7 separate regions of the Homo sapiens genome follow, and regions 1, 2, 3, 5, 6 and 7 are each linked to region 4. The links come from fine-mapping of genetic effects on gene expression. A gene starts in region 4. Each other region holds a variant in brackets. All regions are shown on one strand. Distances are from middle to middle. Region 1 overlaps FBXO25 (F-box protein 25). Region 2 overlaps DLGAP2 (DLG associated protein 2). Region 3 overlaps FBXO25 (F-box protein 25). Region 4 holds the start of FBXO25 (F-box protein 25). Region 5 has its middle 27 kb from the start of FAM87A. Region 6 has its middle 21 kb from the start of FAM87A. Region 7 overlaps FBXO25 (F-box protein 25).

The links. PIP is the estimated chance that this variant, and not a neighbour inherited with it, causes the effect.
Region 1: its variant is fine-mapped to the expression of FBXO25 in testis (GTEx, PIP above 0.99).
Region 2: its variant is fine-mapped to the expression of FBXO25 in fibroblasts (GTEx, PIP above 0.99).
Region 3: its variant is fine-mapped to the expression of FBXO25 in whole blood (TOPMed, PIP above 0.99).
Region 5: its variant is fine-mapped to the expression of FBXO25 in whole blood (INTERVAL, PIP above 0.99).
Region 6: its variant is fine-mapped to the expression of FBXO25 in Th2 cells (Schmiedel 2018, PIP 0.95).
Region 7: its variant is fine-mapped to the expression of FBXO25 in whole blood (INTERVAL, PIP above 0.99).

The regions. Positions count from the first base shown.
Region 1 is chr8:429,783-433,782 of GRCh38, reverse strand. FBXO25 (F-box protein 25) reads right to left here. Exons shown (of 10, transcript NM_183420.2): 3 at 2,339-2,442; 4 at 848-897. Among named protein-coding and RNA genes, the nearest start is that of FBXO25, 25 kb to the right of the region's middle. The variant G/C (reference allele first, on the strand shown) is at 2,439.
Region 2 is chr8:1,133,180-1,137,749 of GRCh38, reverse strand. The region is part of intron 2 of DLGAP2 (DLG associated protein 2); the gene reads right to left. Among named protein-coding and RNA genes, the nearest start is that of DLGAP2, 400 kb to the right of the region's middle. RefSeq lists a silencer at 4,447-4,570 and an enhancer at 4,275-4,570. The variant G/A (reference allele first, on the strand shown) is at 2,115.
Region 3 is chr8:475,654-480,223 of GRCh38, reverse strand. It overlaps FBXO25 (F-box protein 25), which reads right to left. Exons shown (of 10, transcript NM_183420.2): 10 at 2,257-4,570. Among named protein-coding and RNA genes, the nearest start is that of TDRP, 67 kb to the left of the region's middle. RefSeq lists enhancers at 176-675, 676-1,177. The variant T/A (reference allele first, on the strand shown) is at 2,233.
Region 4 is chr8:404,420-408,989 of GRCh38, reverse strand. It overlaps FBXO25 (F-box protein 25), which reads right to left and starts at 2,032. Exons shown (of 10, transcript NM_183420.2): 1 at 1,924-2,032. RefSeq lists a silencer at 1,900-2,309 and an enhancer at 4,411-4,470.
Region 5 is chr8:354,339-358,908 of GRCh38, reverse strand. No RefSeq gene overlaps it. Among named protein-coding and RNA genes, the nearest start is that of FAM87A, 27 kb to the left of the region's middle. The variant A/G (reference allele first, on the strand shown) is at 2,005.
Region 6 is chr8:359,813-364,382 of GRCh38, reverse strand. No RefSeq gene overlaps it. Among named protein-coding and RNA genes, the nearest start is that of FAM87A, 21 kb to the left of the region's middle. The variant G/C (reference allele first, on the strand shown) is at 1,903.
Region 7 is chr8:467,089-471,606 of GRCh38, reverse strand. FBXO25 (F-box protein 25) reads right to left here. Exons shown (of 10, transcript NM_183420.2): 10 at 1-2,892. The coding sequence ends at 2,803. Among named protein-coding and RNA genes, the nearest start is that of FBXO25, 62 kb to the right of the region's middle. The variant C/G (reference allele first, on the strand shown) is at 2,614.

The DNA of each region.
Region 1 (4,000 bases), 25 kb before region 4:
CATCTACAAACATTTCTGGAATATTTAACTTACCCTGAAATAACATACGATAGACAGTAATTCCCTAAATTATTTTCCCCAATTGTTGCAAAATAAAGCAAATGCAGAGTTTCTAGGCCTATAAAAGGAACTCAACTTCCCGGATCCTAGTAAAGAAACAGGAAACAGCTTGAAGCTCTCTCGTTTGTTTTATGGCTCATGAAAAAGCTTTAGCCCAACTTGGCAAAAGAAAGGCAGGGAAAGAGTTCACACAGCTCTGCACAAACCCAACCCAATTACTAATTTCATGTTAGCCACTCTTTATGTGGAATGAGAGGGCTCACAGATGCCCTGCCCTCCAAAACACGCCACAGGGAGGACACATTCCCATCAGCATCAGGGGTTCATGCTAACACAGAGAAAATGCGTATGACTGCAGGAGTCCATGCTTGGTTTAAATAACCCTGCTGTAGACTCAGATATGTACAGGTAGGCAGGAACCACACACTGCACACATATACCACATGCCACCACACACCATACATCCCACACACCAGTATCTGCACAAATACATGCACAATCATACATACACACCATATATACCACACACATACACCATACACACAACACACACAAATGTGTGCACAAATACACAGCCACATACCACATGCACATGCAAGCACACACAATGGAAAATCACTGCCTCAAAAGCTCCTCATATGCTATTATCTGTCAGAATGTGAACCATAGATCTGATATTGCAAAAGAAATGTGTTTTATGCAACTTTATTAATACATTTATTTAATGTGACTCCATATTCAACAGAAACAATACAAGATACTCTCATATTTATAATAGAATACTTACTTCCTTTGTGCTTTCTTTATGGACATAGATCCATTTTTCACGATAAAAACCTAGAATAAAAATTACCTTTGTTTTTAAAATCTGGCAAATCATTTCAAAATGAAGATTTTAAAGGAATTTAAATAATTGGACATGTTAACAAAATTATCTGACTTACTATATTGACAAGAAATGCTTTTACGTGGGTGAATGCAAACAGAATTGCTTTGTTTCTTAAATCAGTTTAAGATATGAACAATGATTTCAGACAGTACCAAGTCCTAGTAACTTAGAAGAAAATTAGTATTATTAATGACTGAAGCCATATGAAGACATAAATGATTATAAAATGCAATTACATTACTACATTCCTATGTACCCTAATAAAAAGTTCTATTCTTCTGTTGCTGTGTATGGTACTCCATAGAAACAAATTTTTCAGATAAATCTTAAAAGTTTCAAGAATCACACTAACTGTATTCTCCATGTGACCCTATCTTCTTCATAAAGTAGTCCCCCCGTATTCACAGTTTCACCTTCTACAGTTTCAATTACCCACAGTCAGGTTTGGTTTGAAAACATTAAGTGGAAAATTCCAGAAATAAACCATTCATAAGTTTTAAATTGTGTGCCATTCTGGGTGGTGTCATGAAATCTCACACCGTCCTGCTCTGTCCTGCCTGGGATGCAAATCCTCCCTTTGTCAAGCGAGTCCTACACTACCCGCCCCTTGGTCACTCAGTAGCCGTCTTGGTTATCGGATCACCTGTTGAGATATCACAGTGCTTGTATTTAAAGAACCCTTACTGTACTTCATAATGGCCCCAAAGTGCAAGAGCAGTGATGGTGGCCATCTTGCTATAACTGTTTCATTTTATTATTCTCGTTAATCTCTTACTGCACCTAATTTATAAATTAAACTTTATTATAAGTGTGTATATACATAAAAAAAACCATAGTATCCATAAGGTTTGGTAGTATCCACAGTTTCAGGCATCCACTGGAGGTCTATCCCCTGAGGTAAGGGAGCCTACTATACATTAACATGTGTCTTGGTAACTCACAGATATGCTGCATGATAGAGCTCTATGCCCTCACATAGATAGGTCCCACCTCCAGCCTTCCCCTGCTGCCATCTAACATCCTAAACTCCAGCTCTGAATGTCTGTCTCCTGCTCTGAATCTTCAGTGACTTCAAAACTCAAGTCAGGACACCTCTCAGTTTGGCCTCACTGCTCAAGACTGAGCTGAATTCATGACCATAATTCAAGCATTCAGATTCATGGGCTGTTTTGTGGGTTTGGCTATCTCTTATTTTGTTTTTGCACATCTTACCCACTGAAACGGTTGAGCTGCAAAAAGTTTGATCACTAAATCTGTAGGCAATGCTGGATACTGGGCTGTTATTTACATATTTGTATCACCTTTTATTTCATAAGATAGCATTGTCAGAGTAATTTAGTATTTCAACGTAATCAACAAGTAAAATAAAATTAATGAGAATGATCTTACTTTGAGTATTTGTGTCATTTCTAAAATGGTCCTTTTTCCTTTTTTTCGATGCATATTCATGCTCTTCATTATTGAATATTTCTCCATCTTCACTATTTAA[G/C]ATACTGAAATAAAGACACATTCTATTAAAATATTTTTTCAGGGAGATCTTCATTTGGCTTTTCTTTTGTAAAAGGATATAAATACTTCAAAGTGACAGACTGTGGGCTTGAAATCACAAGGGTAATGTCTAATACATTTTTGTTTCATTTTGAGAAATAAGATGTATCCTGGTTCTTTGAGAATATTGTACCAGAAAGTGCTGAACATGTTTTAGAATCTCTGAAGGGTCTTGATATACTTATCCAAGGTAGTTTCAAACATCAAAATGCCTTATTAAAACAGAGATTTTTTTAAAAAACAACTATTAAAACTCCAGAAAAAAGATGGTAAGAATATGATGATACCCAATACTGACCAATGACTTGCTGTATACCTTCCCCATGCTGAGTAACCACTCAACATTTCTGTTTACTCCCTATATAAGGGTTTACCTGAAGTTAATTATTACTGCACTGAACATGTTTTTATTAAGCACCAACCAAATACACTGTTAACACATTTAACTGGAACCAGGTGAAGTGACATGTATATTTTTACTATTTAAATACATTTAATTAAAAGCTTTTCTTCTTCGTGAAACAAGAAAATCAAATCATAAGGCAATAACTAAACAATGGGAACACCTTTTACTTTTTAAAAAAACACCTGTAAATAGTAATCCACATCCTCAAAACTAACGCTGTGTAAAATTTTTATTTTCCACACACTGATAACAGATTTTCAGTGTAAAGTGAGGAAGGAAGCTCTGTGGAGACAAGCTGGTTGGTGGAGGCATGTGAGAGTGGTGCTCAAATCCAAGGAACTAAAATTGCTTATTTGCCGGTCATCGTTCTTTGACAAGAAAATTGTACACAAGCCCCTTTCCACTCACCAGTATTCACTTTTATTAAAAAAAAAAAGCTGACTTTGCCAAATGAGTCACTTTCTCACTGTCAGAACAGACTTAAACAGCGGTGCCAACAGTTGTAAATCATCAAGACAAGCAAAGCACATTTGAAAAACATACAAACAACTGAACTTTTTGTGGCAGACATTATAACAGCAATTTATGGAAATGTGTTGATGTTTGTATTTTGTATTTAGTCTTACACCAGTTTGTTATCATTGATTGAAATACTGAATGTAGAAGCTTTAGAATCTATAACGGTTTTTCTAACGAAAATTACAAACATATCAAAGGAAAAGCACAAATACAATGTTCTCCAGAAATACTGTCGCAGAAATAAAGACAGAATATGGAAGGAGACAGGACTGCTGACTAATCTCATACGTACAGGGAGAAGGACACTCCATGCAGCTTAGCTCCAACATGTGAGCATGGGACAGAAAAGCAAGGTGAACCTAAAGATATCCCATGGACACACTGAGCTGGAACCAACTCTGCCCATAGGTGGTGGGGCCAGGTTCAGATGCTTGCAGTAACCGCATCCTCCTGTGAATCTGGGCCTAGATGGCTGTGGCTCCCTGGGGGCTACCCACACTGTGGATTCCACAGGTGGAGGTGACCTTCTTGGGCACTGCTGGGACACTTCCTGGGCCTGCCTGGGCAGTGGTAGGGCT
Region 2 (4,570 bases), 730 kb before region 4:
CACATTTTTTTAATGAAAAATATTTGATTAGGGAAGTTTATATAGTAGAAAGAGCAAGGCTGTAAGTTGCAGCCCATGTTCTTATTTCAGATACCAATCGTTATAGAAAGACAGTGACCCGGGCTGTGAATACTAGAAACATTCAAACAGGGAGTTTTACTAATGCATTTTTTTCTGAGTCAAATATAACTTTAGGAATCACCCATCGTAGTCAATTAAACATTTTCGCTCCAATGCATAGAGTAAGAAAATGGTGTGGGCCGGCTTCAGGTGAGGCTCAGACAGCGAGAGGCTCCATGCAGCAATGGGACAGTGTCCTGCAGCCGCACCGATAGCGGGACATCAGCTCGGGGCAGCTTCTGTGGTTTGGTGGGTGCTATGGACTGAATTACGCACACCCCAAATCCATATTTGGTGCACCAGTCCAATAGGACTATAGTTTGGAGACGGCCTAGGAAGAAACAATCCAGGTTAAATGAGGTTTTGAGTGAACCCTAATTCAATAGGACTGGTGTCTTTGTAACAAGGGGAACAGATGCCAGGGCTCTCCCCTACTCATGCACAGAGGGGAGGCCCCGGCACACAGGGAGGAGGCCACAAGGAGGAGGCCACGCTGCAAGCTGGGAAGAGAGGCCTCAGGAGAAACCAACCAGGCTATGGGCCCCTTGTCCTCGACTGCCAGCCTCCAGAACTGCAAGAACATAAGTTCCTGTTGTTTGAGCCATTCTGGGATCATGGCCTGAGCTAGCACAGTGGCTGGGCACCATCTTGAGAGGCAGGATTACAGTTTTTCAGACATACTACACACAAGTTGAAGCAGCACAAACAGAATACCTCCAGCACTCAACAGGTGCTATCAAATGTCTTTGTTCTGAGCATTTACTCTTCACCATTTAAGATCACTACATTTAAAAATGGTCATTCTGGAGAGCAGCCAGGCCTGGTCTTCTAGGCGCACCTGCACCACCAACACGCCCCGTGTGCTCCTGCTCCCTGGCCTCCATGTTTGCCAGCCTCAAGAGCTGGCTTCGGGTGGTTCCTCACTCTCTTCAGGCACGAAGCTGGGGGAATCCACATTCAATTTGAAGAGCATAGAGAAAGACGTTTTTACTGAGCATAGTCATGTGTTCAGAGTCATGGGTCTGCTGTGCACCAGGCACTAGATCTGAGTGCCCTATGTTGTCTACACACCAGGCACCGTACTTGGTGCTAGCCACGTTGTCTGCCGTGGCCCTCACGAAGGAAGCTTTGATTATGCAGAGCCAGCCTGACGATGAGGAGGGCATCCACCCCGGCCTGTATGGGGAGCCAGAGAGCTGTCCAGATCTGCTGCTGCAGGGAAGCTGTGTTCCCACTCCCTTCTCTCCCACGAGCATCTGCTGTGGACAGGCTGCGGGGCATCTGAGTTACAAGCCCACTTCATGGCTGATGGGAGGGGAGTTTTTTTTTACGAGGTTTGAAGTCTATTCGCTGGTAAATGAGAGGGCTGGAAATTGAGGCCAGGTGTGAGGTCAACCCAACTCATGTGCCTAAGGGAGCAGAACCCAGGGGTCTTCAAAGGCAGGTGTCCCGCCCCTTGGGACAGTGCAATACCAGATTCCTCACTACTTCTACCTGGCAGCTTCCCCTGGAAGCAAGAGGAAGGCAAGGGGAATCTCAAATCCCTTGCGTGAATTTTTCATGAGCAGGTTGGGAAAAATATCTTAAGCACAGGAAGAGAATGAGCTTCTTGACTTGAATAAAGTTTGATTTTTGGAGGATCTGGCTCATTGATTCTGTGCTCTGTGGCCAAGAGGTAAACTGTAAAGCAGTTTAAATCTCGTTTCTTAACTTCGAAAAATGATTGCTTGTGATTACACGACGGGCAACCTTCCCTGCGATGATTCCTGCCAATCCCCCGTGCTCAGCAGAGATCTATTGTTTTGTCATCATGAACATCTCCTTCGTGTTTTTCTACCAGAAATATCACCAGCTCATACTGTCCACAAAAGTGGCCATCCTCTGCATCGGTAAGCTTAGGGATCCATGGAGAGGTTTGGCTTTTTTCAAACGAAGGCTTAGCGCCCAACCTGCAGTTCCTGGAAAGCACACTTTCTGACATGCCGCAAGGCAGT[G/A]AGGAAGGGATCACCTTGAGAATGTCGTTCCCCTTAGGTGTGCCACGCTCCGTCTCCTGAAAGACCGCATGCCCCTTTTCAGAGTCTAGCGCTTCTTAAGATATGGACAAAAAAAAAAAAAAAAAAAAAAAACCCACAAAAAAACCCTTCTAGGATCCAAGGTGAGAAATCTCTAAGTAACTATCTCTGCGTGGTTCCTAAAACCATTTCCGCCTCTCCACTGACGCACCCTCAAAGGCTCTTTCCCCTAAGACGAGATGCACTCAGACAGCCGCCTGGGTCCTTAGCTTTGCTTTTGTTTTTATGAAACTGTGTCCTGAAGCTGCTTTTTAATTCTTGAAAATGGATTTGGGGACAAAGGTTTTCCTTAGGCAGCTTGGAAAATACTAACTGACATGTATTTGTTAAAAAGCAAAAACAAAACAAAAAACCCCACAATGTTATATAGGGTAAGTGCCTATACTTGTAATTTTATGTAACCAATAGCAGCAAAAAAACTGTCAAATCCCAGAAAGCTTTACAGGTTAAGGTGTTAGAGTCCTTGGGGAGGGACACCTTTCAGTGACAAGAATGGAGGAAATAGAAAATAAAGAATAGAATCATCTTATCGGAGTCTCTTTAGCACTAAAAATCATATTCAAAGTTTAATCAATAGAGTTTGATATTGATTCTATTGATATCCCCACCCAAATCTCATCTTGTATGGTAACCCCCAAGTGTTTAGGGAGAGACCTGGCGGGAGGGGATTGGATCACGGAGGGAGGTCTCCCCCACACTGTTCCCATGATAGTGAGTTCTCAGGAGATCTGGTTTATATTATAAATGGTGTTTTTTTCTGTGCTCTCACATGCTCTCCCTCGCCTGCCGCCACGTAATATGGGCCTGCTTCTCCTTCCACCATGAATAAGTTTCCTGAGGCCTCCCCAGCCCTGCTGAACTGTGAGTCAGTTAAACCTCTTTCCTTTATAAATTACCCATTCTCAGGCAGTTCTTTATAGCAGTGTGAAAACGAACTTATACAAGTTTATTCAATTTGAAATCATGTTTTAGATTACATTGCTTACATTATTAATATGATTAATGTAAGTTCTATCATTAATTAATGCAAATTCCTGGCTATTACTAAAACTCAAAAAATAACACATGCTTACAAGGTGGCAGAAAAAAAGGAATTGCTTATACACTGTTGGTGGGAGTGTAAATTACTCAACCATTGTGGAAGACAGAGTGGTGATGCCTCAAAGACCTAAAAACAGAACTACCATTGCACCAAGCAATCCCATGACTGGGTATAAACCCAAAGGAATATACATCGTTCTACCACTAAGACACATGCACGTTCATTGCAGCACTATTCACAAGAGCAAAAACATGGAATCAACCTAAATGCCATCAATGGTAGACTGGATTAAGAAAATGTGGTACATGTATACCATGGAATACTATGCAGCCATAAAAAGAACAAGATCATGTCCTTGGCAGGAACACAGATGGAACTGGAGGCCATTATCCTCAGTGAACTAATGGAGAGAAAACAAATGCCACATGTTCTGTCTTATAAGTGGGAGCTAAATGATGAGAACTCATGGATGCATAAAGGGGACCAACATCCACAGGGGCCTGTGGGAGGTGGAGGGGGGAGGAGGGGGAGGAGTAGGAAAAGTAACTAATGGGTACTGGGCTTAATATCTGGATAAGGAAACAATTTGTATCACAAACCCCCATGACACACATTTACCTATGTAACAAACCTGCACTTGTACCACTGAACTTAAAAAAAAAAAGGGTTAATCAATTCCCAATACGGATTTTATGATTGTATAAAACAACTGAGTGATGTTCATTACAAATTAAATACTACTGTGTTATCTGAAATCCAAAAATCAAAGTCTGGTTTTAGATTACTCTTAATTCTATTGCTTACATTCATATGATTAATATTAATATGAATTCCTCACATTTGTGATGCTGGCTAAACTAGAATTTATGCTGTAATAAAATCTGAATAATATTTATTTTGACTTGGTGAGCAAAGTGTTTGTGTCCAGGCCCTTCTTAACTCCAAACCAGCTTTATAATTTGGTCAAAATAGTCACAGTTTCAGAAATCTATTTCTGATAAAGTTGGACTTAATTGTTTTCCAGAAGACATATCTATTACTTATCATTCTAAGTCCCTTCTAAAAGCAAAAAATATATATTTTTATTCATATATATTTCTCATGACTCCTATTAATGATCAATATAATTTTATGATAACTTCCTGGTTTTACAGAAAGATGAATTTATTTTTGATGATTTTCTAATCATAATCTTCTGCAGAGAGGTTGAAATGAACTGGAAACCCCCCACTTTCAGGAGCCTGCAAACCCCCAGGCATGGAAGTAAAGGAAAATTCCAAAGTTCTTTTCAGAAAAATGCCAGGTATCTGGCTGGCCCCAGGAGTGCTTAAGTAGC
Region 3 (4,570 bases), 71 kb before region 4:
TAAAATTTAAAAAAGCACTCAAAAAATATTGAGTCTTGGAAGGAATGCAGCTATGCAGCTGGAGCCACGGAGCATACAGCTGCAACCTCTGCCTTTCTTTCCCTATAAACGACCAAATGCATCAGAGATGAGGCCCCTGAGATCACTGCTCCTCACTTTGTGGAGTGCAGCCATCTGTAATGGGTCATATTGCCATAGCGCACACACTGGTCTGTGGAAAACGGCAAGACTCTGCGATATCTCGGCTCCTGCCTATATGAGTGAAGCCTTAACTTTCCACTGTGGAACGCTGACCCTGTTTGTGTAGAGCCCATCCCCCAGGTGGCCATCCTCAAAATGTGTGCTTGAATGTGCTAGACACTTCCCCGTATTTTCTGAGCCTCTTCATTTAAGGCTGACAGCTGATAAAGTTGCACCAGCTGTCCATCAGGTAGATGAGAGTCCAGGGCAGTGCCCAACTCTGTGTAGACATGGGGGCCCCAGAGAGGTGCCTGTCTGGGTTATGTACAGAAAAACCGGTTTGCTAAAGAAGCTGGTGTTTTGAAATGTGACACTTAAGTTTTTAGAGGGAAAATGTAGTAATTGGGGAGCGACCGCACCTCCGGCTATCCCCACGCATGGCTATCCTTTCAGCCACACGTGTGGCACAGTGTGTGCGCCGTCTGCTGGAAGAGCAGGGTTTGGGGAAGAGGTTAACAGATAAGCAACATGAATGGCGCTGAGCCCGTTGGAGGGGCACGGGCAGTCCTGAGTGAATGTTACATAGGAGAGCCAGGGTTGATGTGGCTGCAGCCTCGTCTGCTCTCACACCAGCAGGTGAGTGTTAAAGGCAGGCCTCCTGCTGGTGGGCTTGTTTTCTCCTGGCATGTGTGCCTTGGGAACATGCTGCTTTCCTTTGTGCCTTTCTCTGATTCAAAGACTGGTTTCATCACCACTGAAGGGCATGTCACCTTTATGAGGTATTCCATTCTCTAAGTTTTGGTTACTGTATCTCCAAGACCTGCTGTTTCATGGCAAATCTCCATCCACTGGGTTTCTGATTATGTTTGAAGCTTATCATCATCATGCTGGCATCTTTGCCTTTTGGTGACCAACTGTTATCTTACCAGTGAGTGGTTTCATCTTTTTCAAGTGTGTCTGACAGTAACAGTGACCGCCCCCCACCCCGGTACTATAAGGCTGTCAGTTCGGGTGGATACTTAAATATTTATGTATTTTTTGAGACAGGGTCTCACACTGTTGCCCAGTCAGGAGTACAGTGGCACAAACACAGCTCACTGCAGCCTCCACCTCTGCCTGCTGAGTAACTGGGACTACACGTGTGCCACCATGCCTGGCTTTTTTCCTTTTTCTTTTTTTTTTTTTTTTTTTTTTTGTAGCGACGAGGTCTTGCTATATTGCCTAGGCTGGTCTTGAACTCCTGGGCTCGCTCAAGCAATCTCTGGCCTCGACCTCCCCAAGTGCTGGGATTACAGGTGTGAGGGACTGCACCTGGCCGCCATTTAAGTATTTAGAAATTAATGTCCCAGCATGGTTTTTCAGAGTTGCAAAGATATTTTCACTTACTTACTGATAAAGGGGTAGAGTTTTAGCTTTTGATAAAGGGGTAGAGTTTTAGCTTTCATAAGAAGTGAGGCTATTGATCCCTTTGACGTTACTTCTGTTTAGAGTTTTAGGAAAATATTTTTAAAAATTTAGATAATTTATTTTCAAGAAAGCTGAACAAATCTGGATGGTGTGGGGGTGATGGGAAATACCATTTGAGTTTTGAGAAGTGATTTTTTTTTTTATTCTTTGGAAACTAGTGTTTACAGAAATCTCTTCTCCCTAGAGACTTTAAAACGTGCTATTAAGACAGAAGGATATGGTAAGAATTTTTATTCTGTAAGAATCTTCAAAGCTCAGCATGAAGATACACATCTTTCCCATGGGAATCCAGGCTAGAGAAATGCAAGAAGGCGGTTCCCTCTAGAGTCTCCTTTCCTGGGAGATGCAGCTCCAGATGGGTGGGTTTCTGGGCAGGAGGGGAGAGGAGGGTGGTGTTTATTCAACTGTTTATTTGGGATCATGTTATGCGTCTTCAAAAAGCGATATAAGAGAAAATATTGGAAAGATATTTCAAAATAAGAATTACCTTGAAGTAATTCCCATAATTAATGGGTAACATTTTTGTGTATGTATTTTGGCTTTTTATTGTAAAAATAATGTATTTTCATTGTAGAAAGTTTTTTT[T/A]AAAAAGTAACGAGTACAAAAAAGTAGTGTTATATAACTTTTAATGGAAAATGTCAAATAGATACAAAAGTATAAATCAGGTTGGCAAGTGAAATACAGGCCAAAATTGGGCCCACCAGCTGTTTTTGCACAGCCCAAATGTTAAGAATGATTTTTACATTTTTAAATAGTGAAAAGATGTAAAAGGGTAATATCTAATGACATAAGAAAAGTATGTGAAATTCAGATTTTATTGTCCAAAAAGTTTGGAACACAGCCACATGCACTGGTGCGTGGCCCCCTGGTGGCGGCTTCATGCCACTACTGCCAAGTGGCAAGAGAGCCCCATGGCTGGAAAAGCCAACAATCTTTACCATCTGCTCCAAGCCCTGCTTCACTCCCCTGTGTGTACCTATCCTTGCAGCCTCAAATTCCCGGCCAATCTTGTTTCATTTATAGTTACTCCCAGCCCCACGGATTCAAAGGAAATCCCAGACATCCTATAATTTCATCTTCATGTTGAAATTTAAAAAGTTTGAAAATTCACCAAGATGTAATATATATGCACCAAACATCAGAGCCCAAAATATATGAAACAAACATTGACAGAATCAAAGGAAGAAATGGATAGTTCTACAGTAAGAGTAGGAGACTGCAGTAGCCCACTTTCAGTAACGGATAGGACAACCAGACAGAAGATCAGTCGCAAGACAGAACTTGAACAGCATCATACCAGCTGGACCTAACAGACACAACAGCAGTACACACGTTTTTCTCAAGTGCAAATGGACCTTTCTCTAGGATAGACAGTATGTTAGATGACTAAACAAGTCAACAAATTTCAAAAGACTGAGGAAATAAAATATCTTTTCTGGCCACAGTGGGATGAAACTAGAAATCAGTAACAGACAAAAAACTGAAAAGTACACAATTATGTGAAAATTAAACAACGCTCTCAACCAGCAGATTAATGGGGAACTCACAAGGGAAATTAGAAAATATCTTGTGGTAAATGAAAAATGTAATATACAAAAAAACAGGTACAGTCAAAGCAGTGGTAGGAGGGAAATTTGTAACTGTAAATACACCTATTAAACAAATTAAGATCTCAAGTCAACCCTAAATTTACATCTGAAAGAACTAGAAAAAGAAGAGCAATCAACCCAAAGCCAGCAGAATGGAGATGATTATAATAATAATAAAGATTAGAGCAGAGACAAAATAGAGAACAGAAAAGCAATAGAGAAAAATAAATGAAACCAAGAGTTTGTTGATAGCTAAGAGTGACTAAGAAAAACAACTAAAAACCAGGAGGAGACATTACAACTGATTTTACAGAAATAAAAAGGATTAAGAGTACTATGAGCAATTACATATCAAAGAATTGGATAACCTAGATGAACTGGACAAATTCTTAGAAACACACAGCCTATCAAGATTGAATCATGAAGAAATGGAAAATCTGAACAGACCTATGCTAGTCAAGAGCATGAAGTAGTAAAGAAAAGCCTCCCAAGAAAGAAAAGCCCAGGGTCATATGGGAATTCTGGCAAACATCTGAAGAATTAAATCAATTCTCCTCAAACTCTTCCAAAAAACTGAAGAGGAAAGGACACTTCCAAATGCATTCTATGAGGCCATCATTATTCTGATACCAAAACCAGACAAAGACACTATAAGAAAAAAACACCACACATCAGTATTCCTGATCAAGATTTTTTTAAATCAATATTCAACAAAATACTGGCCAACAGGATTCAGTGGGACATTGAAAGGATTACACATCATGGCCAAGTAAGATTTACAGCTGGTATGCAAAGATGTTTCAACATGCTCAAGTCAATAAATGTAATGTCTATTACATTAATAGAATGAAGGAAAAAAATGTGATCTCCATTGATGGAGAAAAAGCATTTGAGACAATGTCATGCCCTTTCATGATAAAAACTCAACAATTGGGAATAGAAGGAAACAACCTAAAATAGAGGCCATATGAACATCCCACTGTAAACATCATATTCAATAAGACTGAAAGGACTTTAAGATCAAGAACAACACAGAAATACCCTGTCTCACCACTTCTGTTTAACACAGTACTGGAGTCTTAGAGCAGTTAGGCAAGAAAAAGAAATAAAAGGCATCCAGACTGGAAAGGAAGAAGCAAAATTATCTGTTTGCAGATGACATGATCTTATATGTAGAAAATCCTAGTGTCCATACATATACAAAAAAAAATTTCAGTAACACTGCAGTTTACAAAATCAACACAACAAATCCATGATATTTCTATACAATAACAAGCAATCTCAAAAGGAAATTTAAGAAAATTCCATTATAATAGTAACAAAAAAACTGAAAT
Region 4 (4,570 bases):
TATACGCTTATTTTAATTAAAATTACCTTTATTTTGGGAATTTACAAACACAAAAAAACTAGAAATTACTCCTGAAAATTATTAAACTTTTAAGAGCAAGCACTCAAAGGGTGTAGCTTGTATAATTTGCAAATTTTAAGCACATTTTATGCCAACTTATTTCAGACAGCCTACAATGATTAACTATTTAAAATCTTCCCTTAATTTCTATTTCATGTGGTAGGACACGTGGGTGGGATACTTCAGTAGAAAAGGACTTCATGAAGTTCATTTGCTGGTGGAAACTCTTGGCATGAGAGACTCAGAACAAAAAAAAATGTCTTTCCTTCAACAAGCATATTTTTTCTTAACAATAATAATGGCAAACATTTATTAGAGCTTACCATAGGCTACGCATTACTCTAAACAATCTACATATGTTGTCTCATTTAATCCTCACACTGTCCTCCAAGGTAGAAAACATTATTCTTGTTTTACAAGTTTCATTATGTATTTTAAAGATGAAGACACTGAGGCAAAGAGTTCAGTGGAGCTGGGATTCAAAATGATGGAGTCTCACTCCAGGATCCATGCTCCTAACCACTATGTTTATAATAGCAGTTCCTGAAAACCCTATTAAAACAGATGCCATTAAATTATAAGCTTTTTAACTTTTTTTTTTTTTACCGTCTATTACAGATCACTAATATGATTTCAAGTAATGATGAACCTAAATACAAAGGCACTAAAACAAGGAATACAACACAGGAAAGAAAACTCCAATCCATCTTAAAAGACCACATGTGTTTCCCTATTTGTTTTGCTTATAAGTGTGGACAAATTTGATCCAGAAAGGACATTTTAAAAAATGGCAAACTGAGGGCTGAGAGTCAGAAATAAGTTGTACTCTAAGGACTTACAGATAATCACAGATTCCTCATGGGAAAGGTAAACACGTAAAGACGAGGAGAAAACAGAATATGAAAGAGTAAACGTCTTTTCTGATTAGGGCCGGATGGTAAGGATTTGGAGGCAGCAAGAGACAGCTTCATAAGGGAAGAAATGGTTCTCTAGATTCTTTAGTCTTCAAAATGAGTTTGAATAGGCCCAAGGACAGAGGTGGAATCTAATTGAGAAAAAGGTCAAATTGAGCTTACTGTGAGGGGAAGGATGCAAAATTAGTGTCTGCTGCAAGAAAAATAAGCATGGAAAGAAATTAAGGGAGGAGACAGAGACAGAGCCAGAGCCACAGACCAGGAGTAGGGAAAAAAAGGTAAGCAGCAGACGGGGCAGAGTGGCCTGGAGGAATGAGGGGTCACACCTAGCAGGTGCCCACCGGCGAAGAGGCAAGGACCGAGCCCGGAGGGCAAACGCCGGCAGGAGTCGTCCCCGAAACACCTTGCCCAGCGAGGCGGACACAAGCTCGGGCCTGCAAGACGGCCCAGGAGGGTGGGGGCGGGAAGGGGTCGCAGAAGGTGGGCAGGGGAAGCGGCTGAGGACGCGCGGTGCACCTGTGGGCGGCCCCCGTGCCCACCCGACTCGCCCGCAGCTCCCTGAATGAACCCTCCACACCCGCCGGCCGCCCCCAGACCCCACCTGACGCGCCCGCGGCCCATCGTCCCTACCTGACGCGCCCGCGGACCCAGACTTCAGCAGACGCGCACGCGGCAATCCCGTCCCCACCTGACGCGCCCGCGACAACCCCGTCCCCACCTGACGCGCCCGAGGCCCCCGGTCCCCACCTGACCCTCCCACAGGCCCCGTCCCCACCTGACGCGCTCGCGACCCCATGTCTTCCCCTGACGCGCCCGCCGCCCCCGGTCTTCACCTGACTCGCCCGTGGCCCGTCGTCCCCACCTGACGCGCCCGCGAGCCCCAATCTTCACCTAACGCGCCTGCGGCGCCAAGTCTTCACCTGACGCGCCCGCTGCACCCCGCACCTACCTAGCGCGCCTGCGGCCCCCAGTCTTCACCTGACGCGCCCGCGTCCCCCAGTGCCCAACGGGCGCGCCGGCCACCTGGGCCCGCACCTGACGGCGACCAGGCGGTTATTGCCGGAAGTGGGCCGCCGCCTCCCGGCGCGCCTCAGGGAAGCCCCGCCCCTGGCCATGCTGATTGGCCGGCGCGGATCCGCGTGGCAATGTTGCTGCCTGGTCCTGTCGCCCGCAGCGTGCGCCTGCGTAGTAGGCACTGCCCCTCCGTCCGCGCGCGTCCAGAGTGCCGGGCGTGGAGGCGTGGGGGCGTGGGGGCGTGGGGTGGGGCTCGGGTGCGCAGGGACGGGCGCGGTCAGTGCCTGAGATCCCTGCGATCGCTGGGAGATGACGGTGAAGACCTGAGATTTAGGCCTGCGCGGCGGGTGACGACGCCGGTCCGGGTCTTCACGGGAGGACGCTGGCCGGGGCCTTCAGGTGTTCTCGTGGCCTGAGGACGCGCGTCCCTGAGAATGTGCGTGCCCGCGCCGCGCGGGTCCCACAGGAGCCTGGGCAGCCCCGCCGCCGCATTTCCACCCTGCGGCCGTATTTCCACCCGCTGGGCGCCAAGCCCGGGATGACTGCACTCTAGGGCATCACTGCGCGCTCACACTCAGCATTCGGGCACAAGCACGTTCTCTTTATAAACAGTTTCGAATCTTGTCGAATCTTTCTAGAAGGTTGAAATGCCCTGGAGGAGCAGCGTGAATAGTTTTTTCCAATTAGGAAAAAAGAATGTGGGGCGGCTGGAGGGAGAGAGGCAGGCCGAGAAGGCCAGGTGGGTCCAGGAGCCGCAGCCCCCGTGCCTCAGTTTCCGCCTAGAAACATGGAGGTGGCGGTGCACGCTACAGGATTTCCATAAGAACAAATGAGTTAGCGTGTGCAAAACATTTAAAACAGTGTCTGGTGTGTAGCAAGCAAATATGAGTATTAGTCTTTTCCTTGTTAAAATGTGTGCATCTACATGTGGTGCACATTACAGGAAGTGTATAGTATGGATTCATATTTTGGAAAAGTAATTTTAGAAGTTATTTCTGAAGTGCTTATTATAATAGTGTTTCTTGACCACATGCTTTTAAATAATGTGAAGGCAATGAAGTAGGCAATATTGCTTGCACATCCCCAATTTAAACACCTGTCTGTCCCTCCTTCCCTCTCTCCGTTCTTTTCTTCCTTTCCCTCTCTCTTTATTCCTTCCTTCATTCCCTTCAAGGTTGCGGATTATTCTATTATATAAATGTATCAATTTATTAGAATAGTTTCTATGATGTCTATGATAGGTTTTAAATTGTTTGCAATAGTTTGCCATTATAAATAATGCCCAGTAGCGCTGTGGTCTGATTTAACTTGTGAAGGTATATTTCCAAATAAATCGCTATGATTGGATTGTTGTGTAAAGCAAAAAGTGTCTGAGGCAGATCACAACTGATTTAGAGGTTTATTCTGCCAAAATCGTGGACGTGTCTGGGGAAAAAGAAACACAGGTTACAGTAGGATTTTTGGCCTGTACTTTTTTCCAAATATTTAAGGGAAAAGCGCCGGTAGGAGGGGAAAGAGGGGAGAGTAGGCTATGAGGCAAGTGGTCACATTTTTGTGAGGCTCTGATTAGAGTACAGCAAATCTACATTTCACATGTGAAAAGAAAGGTATGGGGGAGGGTTATGCATCTGTCTCATACTCAGTAGATCTACATTTCACATAAGATAAAGTAAGCTTTTGGGAACAAAAAGAAGACTGCGTGTGTGTGTGTGTGTGTGTGTGTGTGTGTGTGTGTGTGTTTTGCCAATATTAACTTTTCCCTTTGGCATAGTAAGTTTGGAGGCCTGAAATTTTATTTTTCTTTCACTGATGTGTCAAGGTTAACTGCATATGGAATACTAGTAGAAATTGCCAAGCCAAGACCCCACCACCACAATGGGGGACATAGTAATATTAAATTTAGCCCAATTGGCTAGCATCCTCACAATTCCTAGTGAAAGAATTCCTGGATGGATGGTAAAGAGGTAAACAAACTGCAGAAACTCACAAAGCAACAAAAGAAGTCCACAGAGTAAGAGCAGGAATTCAGAGAGTAACCACAGAGAGATCCACAGAGTAACAGCAGAACCCACAGTGTAACATCAGAGCCCACAGAGTAACAGCAGGACCCACAGAATAATAGCAGGCACCCACAGAGTAACATCAGAACCCATAGTGTGATAGCAGAGCCCAAAGAGTAACAGCAGAGCCCACAAAGTAACGTCAGAACCCACAGAGTAACAGCAGAGCCCACAGAGTAACGTCAGAACCCACAGAGTAACAGCAGAGCCCACAGAGTAATGTCAAGAGCATATTCATGGTCTTGGGTCTTCTTTGTGTGTCCTTTCTACCAGGACTGGGCTTAGCTCTGTGCTTGTGAAGAGTAACCCACTCAGTGCCCTCGGGAATTTCACCACTGGAGGAGGAGAAAAACCCCAGAGGGGCGGGGAGAAATGCTTTTCAAAACACATGGTGCAGCTGGAGATTGTGGAGCAGTTGCCCGGGCAGAAGGCTCGGCAGGGGGAATTAGTGACCAGTAGGGAGGTGCCTCCCTAACCACAGAGATTTTTTGGCAATCAACTTGTTGAAAAATCATGTTTTAA
Region 5 (4,570 bases), 50 kb after region 4:
TCTTTGACAACTCATTTCAAGACAACCAGAAGAATGAGAGACACATCAACTTAAGTATTGGTGGTAAAAATTGAAGGTATAGTTCTTTGTAAAACTAAGATAAATGAGGATTGAAAGAAAGAGAACATCATATATGTGCTATGTGCTCTGACAATGTGACGAACTACAATGATAAAAAGTGGGGGATGGGCCAGGCGCAGTGGCTCACACCTGTAATCCCAGCACTTTGGGAAGCTGAGGCGGGTGGATCAGCTGAGGCCCAGGAGTTCAAGACCAGCCTGGGCAACACGGTGAAACCCCGTCTCTACTAAAAACACAAAAAATTAGCCGGGCGTGGTGGCGGGGCGCCTGTAGTCCCAGCTACTCAGAAGGCTGAGGCAGGAGAATGGCGTGAACCCGGGAGGCGGAGCTTGCAGTGAGGAGAGATCGCGCCACTGCACTCCAGTCTGGGCGACTGAGCAAGACTCTGTCTGCAAAAAAAAAAAAAAAAAAAAAAAAAAAAAAAAAAAAAAATTGAAAGAAAAAACATCCACAAGGGAACAATTACCTTGGGAGTCAGTGGTCACCTTCCAGAGAGAAGGAGGGTGTTGAGGCTGGGATGGGACTGTGGAGGGGCGGCCGGTGTCACTGCCAGTGTTATCCTTACAGGAAATCATTAAACTTTTGGGTGTTATTTTGTACCTGTGATTTATTCAAAATTAAAGAGTTTTAAAAACCTAAAAGATAGTTGAATTCAAGGGAAGATCAGTGCTGCAATAGATCAGCATTCGACCAGATGGAAGATAGGACATTTGGAATTAATGTTGGAGCCTACAACCCTGCAGCTGAGTTCATTTGGACTAATGACTCTGTTCCTCTTTCTCTGTTAGGACTTGAAACACATTTTCCTTGAAGTTTCCTTTTGCCTTTAAAATCGAGTGTGTCATCCTCTTTGGGTCGGCGCTGGCTGGGATGCAGCTGCTGTGGGCCTTAGCAGGAAGGAATGGATGTTGGCCCAGGCTTGAGCCAAAAGCTAGCATCTGTGGGGTGGGATGGGAGGGGCTGTGGTGACTTGCAGCAGAGAGCAACCGCGGAGCAAAGTCAGACCAGGGTCAAGCCAGATCAGCAAGGAGAAGAAAGGCGGCAAGCCGACTTCCTGGGGGCAAACCTCCCTCCTCTCCCCACCTGCACACACTGTCAGAGGTCTTTAAAGCCAGAATGCTTTCAAGAACTTTACCTTCTATTGTTTTTTGATTTTTTGCTTATGGTCATTCTTGCAGGAGTAAGGTGGTATCGCACTATGGTTTTGATTTGCATTTCCCTGATCATTAGTAATGTTGAGCATTTTTTCCTATGTTTGTTGGCCATTTGTGTATCTTTTGAGAACTATCAATTCATGTCCTTAGCCTACTTTTTGATGGGATTGTTTGCTTTTTTCTTGCTAATTTGTTTGAGTTTGTTGTAGATTCTGGATAGTAGATGTTGGCACGGATGCAGTAAAAAGGGAACACTTCTACACTGGTGGTGGGAATGTAAACTAGTACAACCACTATGGAAAACAGTGTGAAGATCCCTTAAAGAACCAAAAGTAGAACTACGGTTTGACCCAGCAATCCCACTCCTGAGCATCTACCCAGAGGAAAGAAGCCATTTGAAAAAGATGCTTGCACACACATTTACAGCAGCACAATTCGCAATTGCAAAAATATGAAACCAACCCAAATGCCCATCAATCAATGAGTGGATAATAAAGAAACTGTGGTATATATAGACCATTGAATACTAATCAGCCAAAAAAAGGAACAAAATAATGGCATTCATAGCAACCTGGATGGAGGTAGAGACCATTATTTTAAGTGAAGTAACTCAGGAATGGAAAACCAAACATCTTATGTTCTCACTCATAAGTGGGAGCTAAGCTATGAGTCTGCAAAGCCTTAAGAATAACACAATGGACTTTGAGGACTCAGGGGGAAAGGGTGGGAGGGGGAGTGAGGGATAAAAGACCTACTGATTGGGTTCAGT[A/G]TATGTTGCTCGGGTGATGGGTACACCAGAATCTCATTAACCACCACTAAAGAACTTAATCATGCAACCGAATACCACCTGTTCCCCGAAAACCTATGGAAATAAAAAAAATTTTAAAAAGAAGTTTGCTTTCAAATAGCTTACAATTTATGTATCGTGCTGGTCAAACAGAGCGACTTGACGTGTGCATTGTAATCAGCATCTCCCCGGGTCCGGCTTCTTTCACTGTGACTGAATGGCCTCCCTCCTTCTCGGTGTTGACAGGCGGAGTGGCCTTTGCCTGAGAGGGATGCTTGTTTGTGGATTTGTGGGCTCAGGCTGCTTTCTGATGCTTCCAATGCCTTCTAAAGGTTGCCTCAAGGAATTAACATGTTTTTGACAATTGTTCTTCAGGAGACCTCCAGTCATCTGACAGAAGCAAACAATGCAAAGATTCACTGGGAAAGTTGTTGCCATAAGAGAACTGGCTGATCTGCAGATGGACCCAGGTAGCCTCTGTGCCTCTAGCTGTGAGCAAATCCCACCTCACCGTTGTGAAATATGAAGTGATTCACCTGCTTTCAGTGCATTCACACTCTGCTTAATTACACTGTTGTTCTCGCAGTTGGAAAGCACATGGATACCTCATTTCAGTTATTTAATGAGATTGGAAGTCAGCTTTTCTCCCCAGCCCCCATCCCTGGCCAACCACCCACACTCCACAGTGACTGAGGTGCAGGCCTTGTATAACGTGTGTATTAAAAGCACGATTTTTAATGGTACTCAGTCTCAAACACGTTGGCAAGGGATTTGGCAGCAACTGTGAATAATTTGCAGAAGGTTTCTCCTGGAACACTCACTTTTATTAATTTGCCAACTTCCCTAATTTAAACAGTGACTCATGTTTCATATAAATTTCTTCCTAGGACATAATTATTCTGACATTGAATACTCTGTGTATGGGACGTGATCTGGACTTGAAAATAGCATTTTTTTTCAAAAAGTCAACCTTTGTTTCACCAAAAGTATAAAAGCTACTGCAAGTAGATTTATTCAAACAAATAGAAAGCAAATGAGATGGCATTCCCTCCTGTGAATGCATTACAGCCTGTGCTCATTGGAAACAGGGAGAGAAAGCTGGGCGCTAGGTTTTTGAGTAGGAAAGTCTCTAGTTCTTTATTTTCAGGGCTATAAATACCTTAACTCCAGGTTTGACTGACTAACGTGGTCGGTTGCTGGAGAAAGGCTCTGAAAAGAATCATCTGCATCCCAGCGTGGTGGCTCACACCTGTAATCCCAGCATTGTGTGTGTGTGTGTGTGTGTGTATATATATATATAAATTAGTTGGGCATAGTGGTGTGCACCTGTGGTCCCAGCTACTCGGGAGGCTGAGGTGGGAGGATTGCTTAGTAGTAAGCTATGATCTGTACCACTGCACTCCAGCCTGGACTGCAGAGTGAGATTCTGTCTCAAAGAAAAAAAAATAACTTGCTTAGTTTCATATGTGCAAATAGAAACCTATGGAAACATCTCATTTACCTTCCAACAATATGTGTTTACTTTCAGCAAGAGAATGAACATGTTTTACCTACTCTTGAAACACTCTGAGAATAAGTCCAACCTGGTTCACTAATTAAAATATTAACAGCATAGCAGCCAAAAACTAGTCAAATGAGGCATCTGGAGGGTGGCATTTTGACCAACTCTACCAGGGAAGTGATATTGAGAACTCTAATTCCAATTTAAAAAAAAAAAAAAGAATTCTGTCTTTTGTGGTATGGATTCCAGGACAATGTCGAGCAGTATTTTCCAAACCTGATAACTCTGAAAGTTGTCAGAATCAAAATGGAATCACTTTTATTAAAAGCAAAAACAAAAACAAAACCAAAAAAACCCTGGCAACTGGAGCAGGGAAGGCCACGGAGAGTGCATCCTGAGGCTTGTTCACCCAACAACAAAAACTGTCACAGGAGACTGCAAACCCACGCTTGCTCATAGGACATCACAACCTTACACAAAAAATACTTCCTTGAGGACATCTGCCCAGCAGGCCTGTCCAACCTCGGACTGACGTCACCCTTGTTATTGATCCTAGGATCCAGAGCCAAGGATAATTCTCTCAAAACAATGACATAATCCTCATTTTTTTTTCTCTAAAAACCTTTCTCTTTGTTTGCCTGCCTGAATCCTCACATAGTTTACCATGGCGCACATATTCCCATTGAAATCCCCTATTCCCCAGTACATGCCTTTGTTTTGTTTTGTTTTGTTTTGTTTTAAGACAGACTCTCTCTTTTTGATGTTTAGGTTGGCATGATGCAGCATAGTCACCTGAGGAGCTTATTAAACTAGAGTCCTGTGCTCCGCCTGGACTAGCGGAGCCACTGGCGGGAGAGCTGGTGATGGGGATGGCCTGGGTGGTGGTGAGGTCTGGCGGTAGAGTCCCTTGTGTGTGCATGTTTCAAGACATTCTCAGATTGTGATTGTGCGGCTGTTCCTACCCTAGCAGAGGACTTGTGTTTGGTCACTGTTCACTGTTTAGATAGTCTCTCAATGAGAAATTTCTATAAGTTGGACTATATTTTT
Region 6 (4,570 bases), 45 kb after region 4:
AGCGAGCATCGAGGGTCAAGGCCAAGTTCAAGGGGCAGAAACGGGAAAACTGAAACTGAGTCAGGGCCTGGTGTTGATGTAGACGATCATGAGGCAGGTCAAGAGTGGCTGCCGTGGACGGGGCAGGAGAATCCACAGTGTGACTTCACGGCCTTGCTGTTTTCTCTGGAGACATACACATGACTTGGGTGTTTGCCTTCATGTGTTTTGGGGGACTGAATTCCTGTAAGATGGCGGAGCAGGGCCAGGAGGTGCAAGTGCCCTGCGTGACCTGGACCGTGCTTGACCTGGACCTTGAGTTACCTGGACCGTGCGTGACCTGGACCGTGGGTGACCTGGACCGTGCGTGACCTGGACCGTGGGTGACCTGGACCGTGTGTGACCTGGACCGTGGGTGACCTGGACCGTGGGTGACCTGGACCGTGCGTGACCTGGACCGTGGGTGACCTGGACCGTGTGTGACCTGGACCGTGGGTGACCTGGACCGTGGGTGACACTCGTTTTTGACTTGGCGACTTTCTCCCTGGCAGTTCTAGATTTGGGTCAGTGAATCCTAACTACACAAATATTTCAATTAAAAACAGCATCATGGTGACAGATAACTATAGATTTAGTCAGTCTAACCGCATATGGGGCATGACATGAAGAGTTAGAGTTGAGAAATTTCAACGAAGAATTCTAAGCTTCCCCATGGAGTATTGTTCATGGCTTTTAATGTACGTTTAAACTCAGTCACCCAAGGATTCGGGGATTAAGTGCATCTTTATACGTATAGCAGTTTATAGCTGCAGGATCAGCTTAATATGTTCATTTTGTGCTTTGGGAGGCAATCAATCCTCTGAATTGATTTTTGAAGTTGATCACAAGAATCTTTGATTCAAAAAGATTTTATTTTTTGACGCTATTGAATTTGGCAAATTCTGCCACACTTCCTTATTTTAACATTTCTGTCTTTGAATAGAAATGGTGATTTTATTACTTGTACTAATCTTAATTCTTTTTTATTCTTCTATGAGAACCTTCAGTTTAAATATGACATCGTCACTAGTTCACTTTCAGTATTCTACTAGCTCTTCATGTGTCACTCATAGACTCTATTCCTCTTTTCATTGCATTGTTCATGTGATAATTCCATGGCCTGAAAGGGTTAAATGTCTCCTGAAAGTATTCCACTGAAGCTGTGGGGTGTGCAGGAGGAGCTGTTAAGCGTGCCTGCCAACCCTGAGAAATAGCTCCTTGCCAGTGTTCAGGACACTGGACAACAGGTCTGGCCTCTGCCCTACTTTTGCCTGAAATTAGAAGAGGAGCTTTACCTCCCTGGTAGTTTTTTCCTCTCATCTACAGAAGAAGAGACTTGAAACACAGTGTAGATGCTTTCCAAGGTTCTTTCTGACTCTAGGTTTCTACCGTACTTCACAGCAAAGGCTGACATTGATGTGGAAAGTCACAACTTTGAGATTTTCATGACTGTATTTTCCTTCCACATTTCTTTTAGCAAATGGTAGAATGTTGACAGGAAGTCCATTAACAAAGTCAGGAAAAAACTCACCAAGTCTTAGCAGAAATTGTAACCTGGATTCATTCTCATTCTCCTAATAAGATGGTACCAGTGAGTGATAGTGTCGAGTAATAAATGAGAATGACTAAATAGGAGGCAGTACCAGCTGTCCAAGGTAGCACAAATTGGGTAGTTTGAGGCATGTGCTTGGAATGCAGGAACGACACCTGCCTTAGGAGGTGATGAGGTGGGTGGCAGCATGAACACTGTTACCATGATGTATGGATGGCGAGAAACAACACGCTCTCAGCACCTGAGTCAGGAACTGTTACCATTGCATGAGATGGTTGCACCCAGCCCACCCATGATAATCCTCACAGCCATCTCTGATGCAGGAGGAACTG[G/C]AGGTCATGATGCCGTCAGCACTTGTGCTTTAAATGGTGACTCTGTAAGGGTGAGTTACGAGGGGTCAGGTTACCTCTGAAAATCAGGTTTGGCAAAAACTCACTATGTCACAAGAGACTTTTTAGATGCTCAGGGAAGGCAATGGGCCTCTTCTCTTCCTCTTAATGTAGATCAGCTTGGAGCTGTGGTACACTGTGCTGGCCTATGTGCGTTGTGGGACAATGGTATAGGGTAGTAGCTGACGTCCACTTGCCCCATTGGCACAGGGTTCTTTCCCAGTTTGTGAAAAAAACTTTTAAAGCTGTTCAAATTAAGTGGATTTGATTTAAGATAAGCAGAATAAAAATTCTATGATCTTTTAAAGTTTTCAAACCTGCAGGATTCTTGGAAGCTGGGAGAGACAGTGCATTTTTGAATCTCAACTAGGTAGCAAAACCCAAAACATCATTAATAAAACTAAGTGACTAAAGACCCTAAACTATATTCGGATGAGGTTAAACCAAAATCCTTCAGAACGCATGATGTTGGTCTCTGTGTAAGAGGAAGCAGAGGCTCACATGGAGCACGGGGAAGCATCCACGATCCCAGATGTGCAGCCATTGCCACAGGGAAGCATCGACAATCCCAGATGTGCAGACATTGCCACTGGGAAGCATCGACAATCCCAGATGTGCAGACATTGCCACGGGGAAGCATCGACAATCCCAGATGTGCAGACATTGCCACGGGGAAGCATCCACAATCCCAGATGTGCAGACATTGCCACGGGGAAGCATCCACAATCCCAGATGTGCAGACATTGCCACGGGGAAGCATCCACGACCCCAGATGTGCAGACATTGCCACGGGGAAGCATCCATGACCCCAGAAGTGCAGACATTGCCACGGGGAAGCATCCATGACCCCAGATGTGCAGACATCACCATGGGAAGCATCCACGACCCCAGATGTGCAGACATTGCCATGGGGAAGCACCCATGACCCCAGATGTGCAGACATTGCCACGGGGAAGCATCCATGACCCCAGATGTGCAGACATCACCATGGGAAGCATCCACGATCCCAGATGTGCAGACATTGCCACGGGGAAGCATCCACAATCCCAGATGTGCAGACATTGCCACGGGGAAGCATCCACAATCCCAGATGTGCAGACATTGCCACGGGGAAGCATCTACAACCCCAGATGTGCAGACATTGCCGTGGGGAAGCATCCATGACCCCAGATGTGCAGACATTGTCACGGGGAAGCATCCATGACCCTAGATGTGCAGACATCACCATGGGATGCATCCACAATCCCAGATGTGCAGACATCACCATGGGAAGCATCCATGACCCCAGATGTGCAGGAGTCGCCATGGGGAAGCACGGCAGGTCAACCCGAGTGCTGTGACTGACACATGTGGGGTTTACTCATCCAGTAGTTGATGAGTCAAAAAGGACTGAGGGACTGGGGCCTCTGACTCCTGGGAACTCTTAATTCTGATAAGCCAGGCTCCTTTCTATGAATGAAAAAAAATTATTGGGAGTAGGCTGGGCACAGTGGTTCACGCCTTTAATCTCAGAACTTTGTGAGGCTGAGGTGGATGGATCAGTTGAGGTCAGTTCAAGACCAGCCTAACCAACATGGCAAAACCTTGTCTCTACTAAAAATACAAAAATTAGCCAGGCATAGTGGCATGTGCCTGTAATCCCAGCTACCCAGGAGGCTGAGGCAGGAGAATAACTCGAACCTGGGGGGAGGAGGCTGCAGTGAGCCAAGATTGTGCAACTGTCCTCCAGCCTGGGCAACAGAGTGAGACCCTGTCTCAAAAAAAAAAAAAAAAAAAAAAAAAAAAAAAAAATATATATATATATATATATATATATATATATATATATATGAGGTTTTATATATATATATATATATGAGGTTTTATATATATATATGAGGTTTTATATATATATATGAGGTTATATATATATGAGGTTATATATATATGAGGTTATATATATATATGAGGTTATATATATATATATTTTTTGAGACATATATATATGAGGTAAAACAAAAAAATGAAGGGCAGGGACAATGAAGACCAAGTGAAGAGAAGGTCTAGATAAAAGTGGAGGAAGGGAATAGAGTGAAGAAATCTCAGAAATCAAACTTCCATATTTTTTTTTTTTTTTTTTGAGTCGGAGTTTCGCTCTGTCGCCCAGGCTGGAGTGCAGTGGCGCGATCTCGACTCACTGCAAGCTCCACCTCCCGGGTTCACGCCATTCTCCTGCCTCAGCCTCCTGTGTAGCTGGGACTACAGGCACGCGCCACCATGCCCGGCTAATTTTTGTATTTTTAGTAGAGACGGGGTTTCACCGTGTTAGCCAGGATGGTCTCGATCTCCTGACCTCGTGATCCGCCCGTCTCGGCCTCCCAAAGTGCTGGGATTACAGGCGTGAGCCACCGCGCCCGGCCAAACTTCCATATTTTTTAACATCACATAAAAACAACCAAAGAGGGACTTCATAAAGTTTTAAACATCTACATTGAATCCCACTTTTTCTAAAACTTCAGGATATCCAATTTTACATAAAAATTAACATTAGAAAAGTATTGAAGGTAAATCCCGCACAAAATTAATATAAGAAAATAGAGAGTAGAGAACAGAATGAAATGCCTACAGATAA
Region 7 (4,518 bases), 63 kb before region 4:
GGAGATTCTATCTTGAGAGTGTCTGGCATTGCCTTTCACAGGAGCGATGGGCAAGTGAAACTTACTACCTGGCTTTAGGCTCCTGGGGTCCTGAATTATCTACTTCATTGTAATGAAGGCATCAGAATGTAACTTAATCTCACAGGAGTGGCATCCCTACTTTTGGAAGGCCCCCTGATAGAAACTGTATTCAAAAATACCATTCCAAAGTGGAGATCTATGATTTCTCTTCTCATCTCTGTTTGGTGTTGTCCGATCTTCTGTAAATAACTGATCAGTGCCTCAAAATTGTCTTTATTCTGTCCTTATACCCTCCATTAACCTTTCAATCTCTCCCCAGCAATGTAAGCCATCCCTGCTTACCTGCCCAGCTCCCACAGCTTGTCCCTCGAACGCACCTGCAGGAGGCTGTGACCCATGCAGTGGCAATGCGGCTAGCTGTGTCCATGGCCTGTGGAAATATGCCAGCCCAGCAGAACAGCTGGAATCCTACACTATTAATATGGTTATGTTTTCCAAGCAAGTACTGCTCAATTTATACAAGTTAAATGCACATCTGTGATTTGATAGCACAGCTGAGAACTGTTATAACATCTAACAATTAAATGACAGTAACAGTATATGACAAATTAGGGGAAAGAACCACAACTTCAAAAGGATAGTTTCCTTTTAAGAAGAAACTAACATGAAAAAAGACTGACATCCACCCCAAAAAACAGGCAAATACCACATTAAGTAATTTACCAAAAACAAGAAAAGCAAATGGATAATAAATATATGGAAATATTCAAGCTCACAATTTATCATACATCAAATTCTTCACTTATTAAAACAGCACCAACAGAAAAAGAAATACCTGTGCTTCAGGGATAATGGAAACTCAATGTACTTACTCCCTTTCCTAGATTAGAACAATTTCTTTTCTCAGCTGGACGTGGTGGCTCATGCCTGTAATCCCAGCACTTTGGGAAGCTGAGGCAGGTGGATTGCTTGAGCTCAAACTCCTGAGACCAGCCTGGGCAACATGGTGAAACCCCATCTCTACTAAAAATACAAAAAAACAGCTGAGCATGGTGGTATATGCCTGTGGTCCTGACTGCTTGGGAGGCTGAGGTGGGAGGATCACTGGAGGGTGAGGTGGGAGGATCACTTGAGCCTGGGGGACAGAGGTTGCAGTAAGCCGACATCATACCCCTGCACTCCAGCCTGGGTGACAGAGCAAGACCCTGTCTCAAAAACAAACTCCAAAAAAATTTTTTTTCATGAACAATCTAGAAATATATTTAAAAGCCTTAAAATATGTTTGACTCATGATGTTGGCTGTACTACCAGTGGTTGTAAGGAGACGGCCACATTGTTGTGTGACGATGCTTATCATAGTTATTGATGCTAACGGCGAGACACTCAGGAACCCCAATATGTTGTGATGAAAAAGCCTGTTCCATCTGGGTGATTCTGTGGAGCTAATAAAAGCCAAGTTTCCAAATAACATTTAGGATATGGTTCTACGTTTCTAAAAAAAGGCAGGGTCGGGACGGGGGGCGTTGTGAAGTAACAGTGGTATACGGGACATTTATGGTCTTATGAAAAACTAACATATATTCGCAGAGGCCCCAGGTATTTGCATCGCCTCAGGAGAAACTATAATTTGACAAATAAATGCATTCTTGGCCATTTGTGTCAGTTCACAGAAGTGGGGCTGAAAAATCCAGAATCTTTTTTTAGTCCTATTTATAACGCCATAAAAGTATACTTTTATTATTATGCTTAAAGGAAAAAGTAGAAATGATTTGCTTGGGCTCCTTGACCCTATTCAAAAATGGAAATATACAACAATACGTTTCTATCCTATGCCTGCTGAGGGGATTTTTCATACTCTTTTCAGCATGCACAATAATCTTTGGGTGGTGGGACTGATTTTCTAATTTTCTAAAATGGACATGCGTTATTTTAAAAACGAAGCAATCTTTTAAGGATTTAAGTATCAAAATCACTAACATTTCTCAGTAGGATGCAAAACTGATGAAGTTTAAATCAATAGATAAACATGATTTATTACTTTGTCTATTAAAGTAGTTTCAACACAATTGAAGTTTAGACTGCACTGGGCTGTTCCCATCACAGTCCAGGATTATGCACAGACCAGCCCCCAACCCCAGCAGGGGTGCCCTGCCAGAACCTGTGCTGGATGCCTAGGAGCACAGAGACCACTGCCCGTTGTTGGGCTGCGTGTGCACACTTCATACCCCGATCCATAATCCCTAAGACAAGAATGGCTGTCATTGCCCTGGGTTCACTTTCTATTCAAAGAGGACTCATTTGGGCACAGCCAATGTAGTAGTTAAAATGCATTTTGAGAAAAAATAAATATTCTGTACAATGTATTTACAAGGATCAAATGTTTTGTAACCCACCCCCAATTAGTTTCCCAATTGGGAAACTATAATTTGATAATTAAGAAGCATATTATTGGCCGTTAGTGTCACGTCAACAAAGAATGTGGAGCTGACCACCTAAAGTATTTTTGAACTATATATATAGAGAGAGAGAGTACGCAAAATTTCACATTTTAATATGCTTAGAAGGAGTTTTTAAAGAAGTAGAAATGATTTC[C/G]TTGGCCTCTGACTTTCAGTGATGAAAATGCAACCATGCAGTCCCCCCTTTGCAGAAGGGCAGTTCTTCCCAGGCTTTCTGGAAGCAGGGGCTTCCGAGGAGTCTCCACCCACCTCACAGAACACTCACTATGAGCCCTGCACAGACAGCAGGATTCACAATCTCCAATAGGGATGGCAGGGGCAGCCCTTAAAACTTGAAGAGGTCGATGAAGTGCTGCGGAGACACAGGCGTGAAGCAGCTGTCAGGGTCGGCCGCCGTGCAGGGGTGTCCTGAGTCCTGTGGGGAGGTGGGAGATGGTTAGGAGGGGGCCCCACCACCAGCCACACTCTAGTGATGGTGCTTGAGGGGTCGTCAGCTGCTTGTTGATGTGGACCCTGGGCCCCACCTCAGAGGTACATGGGAGATAACTTGGATGAGAATGACCAACACAAGGGCAGCCGCAGCCGATTCTACATAGAGGTTTCCCATGGAACTCCTGCTCAGGTAGGGCAGGAGACGGTGGCCCCAGGTCTGCCCTCCAGTGCCGAATCTGGTACTGAGTCAGAGGAGCCAGCTGCTGACACCACCCTGCACTGCCCCGGAATCTACAAGGCCACAGAAGAAACCACTGGGGACTTTCTGTCCTCTGGTCCCAGCCATTCCTTTGTCCTGTCCTCCTGTTCCTGGCTCACTTTGTTACACAGGGTTCCCTCCACCCGCCATTCATCCCTGAATCAGCTTGGGCTCCCTGCATAGGACAGGAGAGGGGGACACACGGCCTCAGCCCCCAAGGCTCCTGCTTGCTCCAAGGGAGCTGGCCATGCTCACATACCTAAGGATCCAGAATTATATTTAATATGAGAAGTGACGACAGAAAAATTAATTTTGTGGATGAAGACTGGCAGACTCTTAGGAGGAACGCAGGTAAACGGGACCAGAGGCTCTGGGGTCAGTGCTGGATCTCTCCATGGCATGCCCTGGCAGTGCTGCCAAACCAGGTGCTGTGTGGTGAAGTGTTTATGCGCACATCTAGCAGCCTCCCTCAGCACTCAGGTGTTGTTCTGCAAAATATTTCATCAACACTCTCGTCCTTGCTGAGGTGTTTGATCAAAGTGGCCACTCAGCCCTGCTCAGGGTCCTGAGAAAGCTCAAGTCAGCGAGAGCTGGAATCGAGCCGGGCAGTGGCCAAGATGACGTGCATGAGATGCAGCACGATGCAACGTTTTCATCCCGAACACAGGATGTGTGGCAAGACAGGGAAGTACCTTGAATAGTAAAGCAAGATGGTAGTCCTTCGAGATCATGAAGAAAGAATCAGGAAGGAATGCAGTGAAGGGAGGGAAAAAAAGGAAAAGTTAAGATTAGAAAGAGCCAGAGTGTATCTAAGCATTCAGGTTTGATTCATATTATTTACGAAAATAACTAAAAACATCAGGTAACTAAATTTGGACAGTACAAGGTTATTAAAAGCAAACAAGTTCTCATCAGATAACCCAAAAATTCCCAAACTACTTGAAGACAGTCTTAAGACAACATATCTCTACCTTTAAGTCTTTCAAATTTGGCAACTAATGAGGCTGCAGTGCTAAATAACCTTTAAAATTATTCACTGAAGAAGAGATGCTATTTCCATGTGCAGTTTATATTAAAACTTTATAACAGATTTTTTTGGGGAAAGTTCTTTGTTCTTCATTTAACATCCGAAGGCTCTGCTCTGTGCTCAGTAATGCACATTAAGTCAATTCCACACATGCCCTTAAGCCAGCCTCCACCTCTGACACTTGTTCCTCCAGGCCAGTGAATGCCACTTTCCAACACAGACCCAAGCCTCAGCAGCTGCCCTCCTGTGCTGTTCTCCCCCGCTGGTTCAGGATGCTACTAGCAAAGCGGTTCCCCTGCAAGACCAGGACCACCAGACCATGG